Linked DNA regions of Homo sapiens. The protein of the gene in region 1 purifies or fractionates together with the protein of each later gene. This does not show direct contact. Each region holds a gene or a part of one and is shown on either strand. Other genes may lie near its edges. The genes, in order: SCRT2 and S100A13.

The links.
Region 2: the proteins of SCRT2 (region 1) and S100A13 purify together in Homo sapiens (affinity purification with mass spectrometry; one large-scale study listed by BioGRID and IntAct). This does not show direct contact.

Annotation. Positions count from the first base shown.
Region 1 is NC_000020.11:665,745-669,564, forward strand, and holds part of SCRT2 (transcriptional repressor scratch 2), read right to left. Parts: intron 1-3,820. UniProt on the Homo sapiens protein: May be involved in transcriptional regulation.
Region 2 is NC_000001.11:153,618,211-153,621,634, forward strand, and holds the end of S100A13 (protein S100-A13), read right to left. Parts: intron 829-3,424; coding exon 685-828; 3' UTR 589-684; downstream 1-588. UniProt on the Homo sapiens protein: Plays a role in the export of proteins that lack a signal peptide and are secreted by an alternative pathway. Binds two calcium ions per subunit. Binds one copper ion. Binding of one copper ion does not interfere with calcium binding.

The DNA.
Region 1 (3,820 bases):
ACAGAACAATGAAGGTTAGGTCCGTTTGGGAGGTTTCCCACCTGGGGAGTGGGATTTGACCTTCTCCTGGTGACCCCTGAGACCTGTAACCACTCCTCCTTCCCTCCTCCCCTAGCCTCCTTCACTGAAGTGAGCAGGTGGAGGAGGGTTTTGTAAGGGGAAACAGGGTTCAAGATGTTCAGACTTTTAGCTGGGTACTCTGGTCAGCTTTCGTTTCCCACACAGCCTGGCTGATTCAGCCTCCAGGCCTTTGCCTCTCATCTGGAGTTTGGGATGGACACAGGGTGAAGTCTGTGTGCCCCTGAAGGCAAGGGTGTGCCCTTATTTTTACCTCTGTCCCTTCAGCAGCCAGCACAGGGCCCTCTGCACACAGAAGTCATTGTGGATTATGGAAGTGGATGACTCGGAAGCGGGGGGCTCTGTGGTTGGATGTAAAGGGGGATAGTGATAGTGGCAATTTTTTAATCTGGGGAGAGGAGATGCCCAGCCTCTCCGCACCCTATGTCTCCCGTCCCATCTGCCTGTGGTCTGGAGGTCCCCCTGCTTCCCACTCCGGGAACCAGGCCTGGTACTCAGGTCCCAGAACATTCAGGAGTGTTGTTTCAGACTGAGTTAAATACCCGTCAGGCACTCCCAGACCCCCCTCCTTCTCCTTCTGTATTTCCTCACGTTGTAATTCCTGGTGATGATAATAATAGCTAATATTCACTGAGCACTTACTGTGTGCACCAGGCTCTGTGCTAAGTGCTTCGCTCCCATCATCTCACTGAATCATCACAAAACTACTCTCATCACAGATAAGGAAACTGAGGGACAGTGTGGTGATGGCACTTGCTCCAGGGGTGGAGCAAGGATTGGAATCCACTGCCCCCTTGGTTTCCCACATACTGGGAGGTCCTCCAGGAGGGGGCTGTGGCTGAGCTGTTCACCTCCCATTCCCAGGGCCCTAGCTAGTGGGCACTTAATAAGTATTTGTGGAATGAGTGATGATGATTTGCGAGGCCAGCCTCACTCCCCAGCCTAGCAGGACCTGGTATAGACAGTCCTGTTCACCTGGTCTCAGGGCAGGTCTGCATCTCATGTGTCTGGGGCCATGGAAGGGGAAGGGTGGTTTGGTTCTCCAACACAGATTCCAGCTGAGTGCCTTTGGGTGGGTTGTGCTTCAGGTCCTTTTTTTTTAAAATGGGATTTATCTGGAGGGGTGACTGATCACGTAACCAGTGCTTTGAGTTCTATTATTAAAGGATGACATATTGGATAAGAGTAAAACTTTGGTGCCAGACGGCCTGGATTGTTTTGGCTCTACCATTCCCAGCAGTGTGACCTTGGCCAAACGATTTGGCCTCTGTGTGACTCTACCGTTTCAGTAAGGGGTCTGCCAGTAAACAGTATATAAACAAATGATAACCAGCACTCTCAGAGCACTCCTGTGTCAGGCACTCTTACAAGGGCTTTCCACACATGAAAGCATTCTACCCCCATGACACACAAGGTGGTAGGTACCCTTTTATAGAAGAGGAAACCAAGGCACAAGGAAGCTAAGTAACAAGCCTAAGATTGTGCAGCTGATAAGTTAGAGCCAGGATTCCAGCTCAGTGGCTGGCACATTTTAAATCCACCACGCATGTTGGCTGTTATTATGAACAATAATAACAATCTCCCCAGATGGGTTTCTGTGCTGCAGCTTTCTTGGCATCTGCCCCAACACATCGTGCTGCTCCTCTCTGGGCCTCTGTTTCCTCACCCGGGATGTGTAATTTCTATTTCACGTTCTGATGGGAAAATATCTGGTGCATAGTAGGAGCTCCATCAGTGAACCAGAGCGTTCTCCATGAGGTGCTCTGCCCATGGCGCCCTCTGCTGGTGGCCCTCAGCGCTGTTGACTTTCCTCCTGTTGCAAGGGGCTCTTTATGAAGAAATAGGGGTGCCTTCAACAAAGGCTGCTCATTTGCCTAGGGAGGGCTGCAGAAGTGTCTTCAGGATAGGAATTGTGAGCCCAGACCAGACACCCAGTCAGTGGATTTTGGCATGGGTTGAGAGCATCCTGTGAGAGTTTGTGTGGTCATGTTAGGAGGAGGTGGTTCTAACTTGCTTTGTGACTGTGGCCAGGTTGCTTAACCTTTCTGGGCGGAATCTATACATGACAAAGATGGACTGGAATGGTCTAAAGACCCTTTCTGCATCATGGCTGAATCAGTCCCTCCATGATGCTCTTTGTCCCCTCCACTCCCAGCTCCTCCAATTCCACCCCGTTTTCCTCAGATTCACAGACATCTCCCTAGGCAACCTTGGGCAAGTTACTTAACATCTTTCTGCCACACCTGTATAAGGGAGTTCATAATAAGGCTGAATAAATGAATGCATGTAAAGTGCTTAGGACAATGCCTGACACATAATAGCTGCCCTCTTGAGCTGTTATTATTGTTACTGGTAGTATTCCTGTGTTTCCTGGTGATATATCCTTCTAATCTGCCAGAGAGTAGGAGATACACATGGGTGTCTTAGGCTGCTGTGTGACCTTGAGCAAACCACCTCACCTCTCTGAGCCTCAACCCTGGAGACTCCTTTAGGACACTAAAAGCCATACTTTAACCTAATGCATGGAACCCAGACAGGTACCTTCCTCTGCCCTAAGAGTGACTATAGAAGGCTGAGATACCTATCCTGCAACTGACAGGGTGAGACAGGACTCTTGTTTGGGTTCCCACAGAGATAGGGATGAGCTGGGATTCAGAGAAAAGAGAATCTCAGGTGAGATCTCTCATCCTAGCCCTTGAATTCAGGCCGTAGCCATGTGACCTTGGGTAAGTCGCATAACTTATCTGGGCTCAAATCCTCCATTTGAGGAATGTGGACCAGAGGCACCCCTGTCATGTAGGGATATGGGGAGGGCCCAGAAATACTTTGGAGATGTGCACATGTCACCTGGAAATGACTTTGGTTTTCCCTGCCCAAGAGTCTTGATATTTTAGACTGAAGGTCCAGAATCTGTCTTTTTAAAAATCGGTACTCAAAGGAGTGGTGAAAGGGAAATTTATGAGAACTAAGGTGCTGGGCCCTCTGCAGACACTGTCTCATTTAGCTGCCTGACCCCCTGCGGGGATGGAGGGGGATGTGTAACAAATACTGCTACTGCTACTGCTGGTGCTTCCAACTAGCACCAGCCTCCCTGTGAGCCAGACATTGCCCTGTGCCCAGAGGCCCAGAGAGGGGAGAGGATTTGCCCAAGGTCACTGAGAGGGAGGCGGCAGGTTTGAAACCCTCCAAGGCCTGTGTTTTTTCCAAAACACCAGAGAGGGCATGGAGACTTGCTGGGGAAGAGATCTTCAATTGGTAGGGGAAGGGGTGGTGCGTTTCCTCAAACACTCCCTAGTTAGCCTGTGGTGGGGTGGGTGGGGGCACGGGGTGGTGGGGGCATGGAGAAGCTGTTGTGGAAAATGCTTCAGCCTCTTGTAAGTATTTGTAAATCATACTTAATAACAGTAATGCCTATCACTTACTGAGCACTTACTTGGTGCAAGGCATCCTGCTAAATGCTTTGTGCACATTAGCTCATGTCTAAGGTCACTTCCCTCCATGCCCTTGTTCTGCAGAAGCTGAAGCCCAGACAAAGGCCTTGACCCACCTCAGGTCACAAAACAAGTTCTCATCAGAGCTGGGTTGGCCTCCTTTTCTTTCCTTTTTTTCAGTCCAGGACTCCTTTCCCCAGTCTCTCCCAGACTCCCAAGGTGCCAAACTTTCTCCAGGGAATTCCTAGCCTCAGCCTCACCTCTCTGTCCTAAAATGGGCAGAAAAAGACAGGGGCCTGGTGGGGGGCCAG
Region 2 (3,424 bases), on another chromosome or scaffold:
AGAGCAGGACCATGCAGCTGAGCCCGAGTCACCTCTCCTGCCCCACATCTCTGCCCCTACTTTTCTTTTTTCTTTTTGTTTTGTTTTGTTTTTTGTTTTTGAGATGGAGTTTTGCTCCTATCGCCCAGGCTGGAGTGCAATGGTGCGATCTCGGCTCACTGCAAACTCCTCCTCCTGGGTTCAAGTGATTCTCCTGCCTCAGCCTCCTGAGTAGCTGGGATTACAGGCACCAGCCCAGCTAATTTTTGTATTTTTAATAGAGATGAGGTTTAGCCATGTTGGCCAAGCTGGTCTCGAACTCCTGACCTCAAGTGATCCACCCACCTCAGCCTCCCAAAGTGCTAGGATTACAGGCGTGAGCCACTGTGCCCAGCCCTCTGCCTCTACTTTTCATATATTCATTCAACCATTTATTGGGCACCTGCTCTGTACAAGACCTGGTGCTAGATGCTGCGGAATTCAAAGATGAATAACATTCCCTGTCCTCAAGGGGCTCATAATTTTCAGATCCATCCTCAGGTCAAGAGAGAGCTTTCCCACTCTCTGGTCTCAAGAAAAGAAATCAGGATGGGGTGTAAGTAAGAAACATTTGTGTTTCAAGGAGGAAGCTTTATTTGGGAAGAGTGCGGTTCTGCTCGGCCCTGATCAGCTCTGCCCTGCCCACCCCATCTCAGCCAGGCGGCTTTACTTCTTCCTGATCTTCAGGTCTTTCTTCTTCCTGATTTCCTTGGCCAGCTCCCCAATCAATCTCCAGTACTCATTGAACTTGAGCTCCGAGTCCTGATTCACATCCAAGCTCTTCATCTTCTCATCAAGAGAGCCCACATCCTGAGGAGACACCAAAGGGAAGGGTAGAGTTAGAAACTGGGGTTCTTGAGAAAGTAGGGAGGGAAGAACTGTCAGCTGCTATTCTCTCAAGGCCCTTCCCTCAGAGAGCAGTGGCACCTGCCCCTTCTCTAAAGAAGGAGGCTGCAGCCCCAAAACTGCACCGCCACGGGGTGCCTCTCCAAGGAGCACCAGCAGAGAAAGGTGGGGGGGCCTGAGTCCTAGTGCTTGCCGTTGTGTAAATACTTCCACGATGGCTGCTTACAAACCACAAACAGGTTGTCGCTGAATACAAAGCTGGAAAGAAATCCACACAATCTTCTCTCACCAGCACACCACTGCAGCTGCTGTGGGATCGGCCCAAGGAATGCCAGCATCTCAGGGAGATGCTGCAGGGTTGGACCCAGTCAGAGCCTTCTGGGGCCACCCTCCTCTTTCTCAGAAAGCTGGAGAAGCTCCCAGTACTTAGCTGCTCATTTGCACAACCCTTGTGTCTTTTCATTTATCCAGCTGGGTCACTAGATCAGGGGAATGGCAAGGGCATGGAGTATCTGGGTTTTTAGGGGCCCTTGACAGGGTATCTCTCATAGGCCTGTGAAATCAATGGCAACAGTAAACTGGATGTCCTGATCGAAGGACCTGTTGCCAGATAAACAAGCACAACCAAAAAGTTGACTGTTGAACAATAGTTCAACATCAAACCAGAGAAGGGTGCCTCAGGCAGGGTGTGAGGCTCAAGGTTTGAACCAACATTTGGATGCAGACAGAGAAGACTCACTGAATCTCTAAAGGGAACAAAGCTGATTCACAGAAGAACTAAAAAAGACTTTTTTTTAAGTTACAACCACGTTTAATTATAAAATACTATAAGCACTGCCAGTGGAAGGCAAGGATGGCTACTGTAACATTATATTGGGGGTGCATTCAATCAGTAAAGAGAAATAAATAAGTATTAAGAAAGAAGAAGCAGGAAGGGTGCGGTGGCTCACGCCTGTAATCTCAACGCTTTGGGAGGCTGAGGTGGGCGGATCACTTGAGGTCAGGAGTTTGAGACCAGCCTGGCCAACATGGTGAAACCCTGCCTCTACTAAAAATACAAAAATTAGCCAGATATGGTGGTGGGAGCCTGTAATCCCAGCTACTCGGTAGGCTGAGACAGGAGAATTGCTTGAACCTGGGAGGCGGAGGTTGTGGTGAGCAGAGATCGCGCCATTGCACTCCAGTCTGGGCTACAGAGTGGGACTCTGTCTCAAAAAAAGAAAAAAAAATACAAAAATTAGCTCGGTGTGATAGTGCACACCCGTAGTCCCAACTACTTGGGAGGCTGAATCAGAAGAATCGCTTGAGTGTGGGAGGCAGAGGCTGTAGTGAGCCGAGATCAAGCCACTGCCCTCCAGCCTGGGTGACAGAGTGAGACTATCTAAAAAAAAAAAAAAAAAGAGCTGTGACAGAAACAAAACAAAGGCCAAATACCAAATACCATACCAGTATCAGTGGGTTCCACAGCCCTGGATTCAACCAACCTAGAACCAAAAATATTTGAAGAAAAAAATCCACAAAGTTCCAAAAAGCAAAACTTAAATTTTGCCCCATGCTAAGTACTAAGTTGAATCCATGTGAATGAAGTGATGAGTAGGCACTGCATTATGTATTACAAGTAACCTAGAGTTACTTGTAATTTAAAGTATACAGGAGGATGTGCATAGGTTATATGCAAGTACTATCTGATTTTATATAAGGGATTTGAGGCCAGGCATGGTGGCTCACACCTGCAATCTCAGCACTTTGGGGAGGCCAAGGTGAGAGGATCGCTTGAGCCCAGGAGTTCAAGACCAGCCAGGGCAACATTGTGAGACACCCATCTCTACAAGAAAAGGACAAAAAAAGGTAATTGAGCATCCAAGGATTTTGGCATCCAAGGGGGTTCTGGGAACAATTCCCATGGATACAAAATGACAACTATATATTTCATATTATACCACAGGGATATTAAAAAAAACCTTGAATAAATAGAAAATGGAATAAACATATATTTTTCTTAAAGAGAAAGGCTCAATCAGCTAAAAATGTTGATTTTCCCTAAAATATATCTTTTATATGATCCCAATTAAACTATCTACAGGATTTTTTTTTTTTTTTGAGATGGAGTCTTACTCTGTCGCCCAGGCTGGCGTGCAGTAGTATGATCTCAGCTCACTGCAACCCCCACCTTCTGGGTTCAAGCAATTCTCCTGCCTCAGCCTCCCGAGGAGCTGGGATTATAGGCACCCACCACCACGCCTTGCTAATTTTTCTATTTTTAGTAGAGATGGGGTTTCACCATGTTTGCCAGGCTAGTCTCAAACTCCTGACCTCAGGTGATCCACCCACCTCAGCCTCCAAAAGGTCTGGGATTACAGGCATGAGCCACCACGCCCGGCCTACAGGATTCTTTTTAACATTATAAAATGTTACTGGCTGGGCATGGTGGCTCATGCCTGTAATCCCAGAACTTTGGGAGGCCAAGGCGGGTGGATAACTCGAGGTCAGGCGTTCAAGACCAGCCTGGCCAACGTGATGAAACCCCATCTCGGGCAACCCGCTCGGGTCTCTCACACTG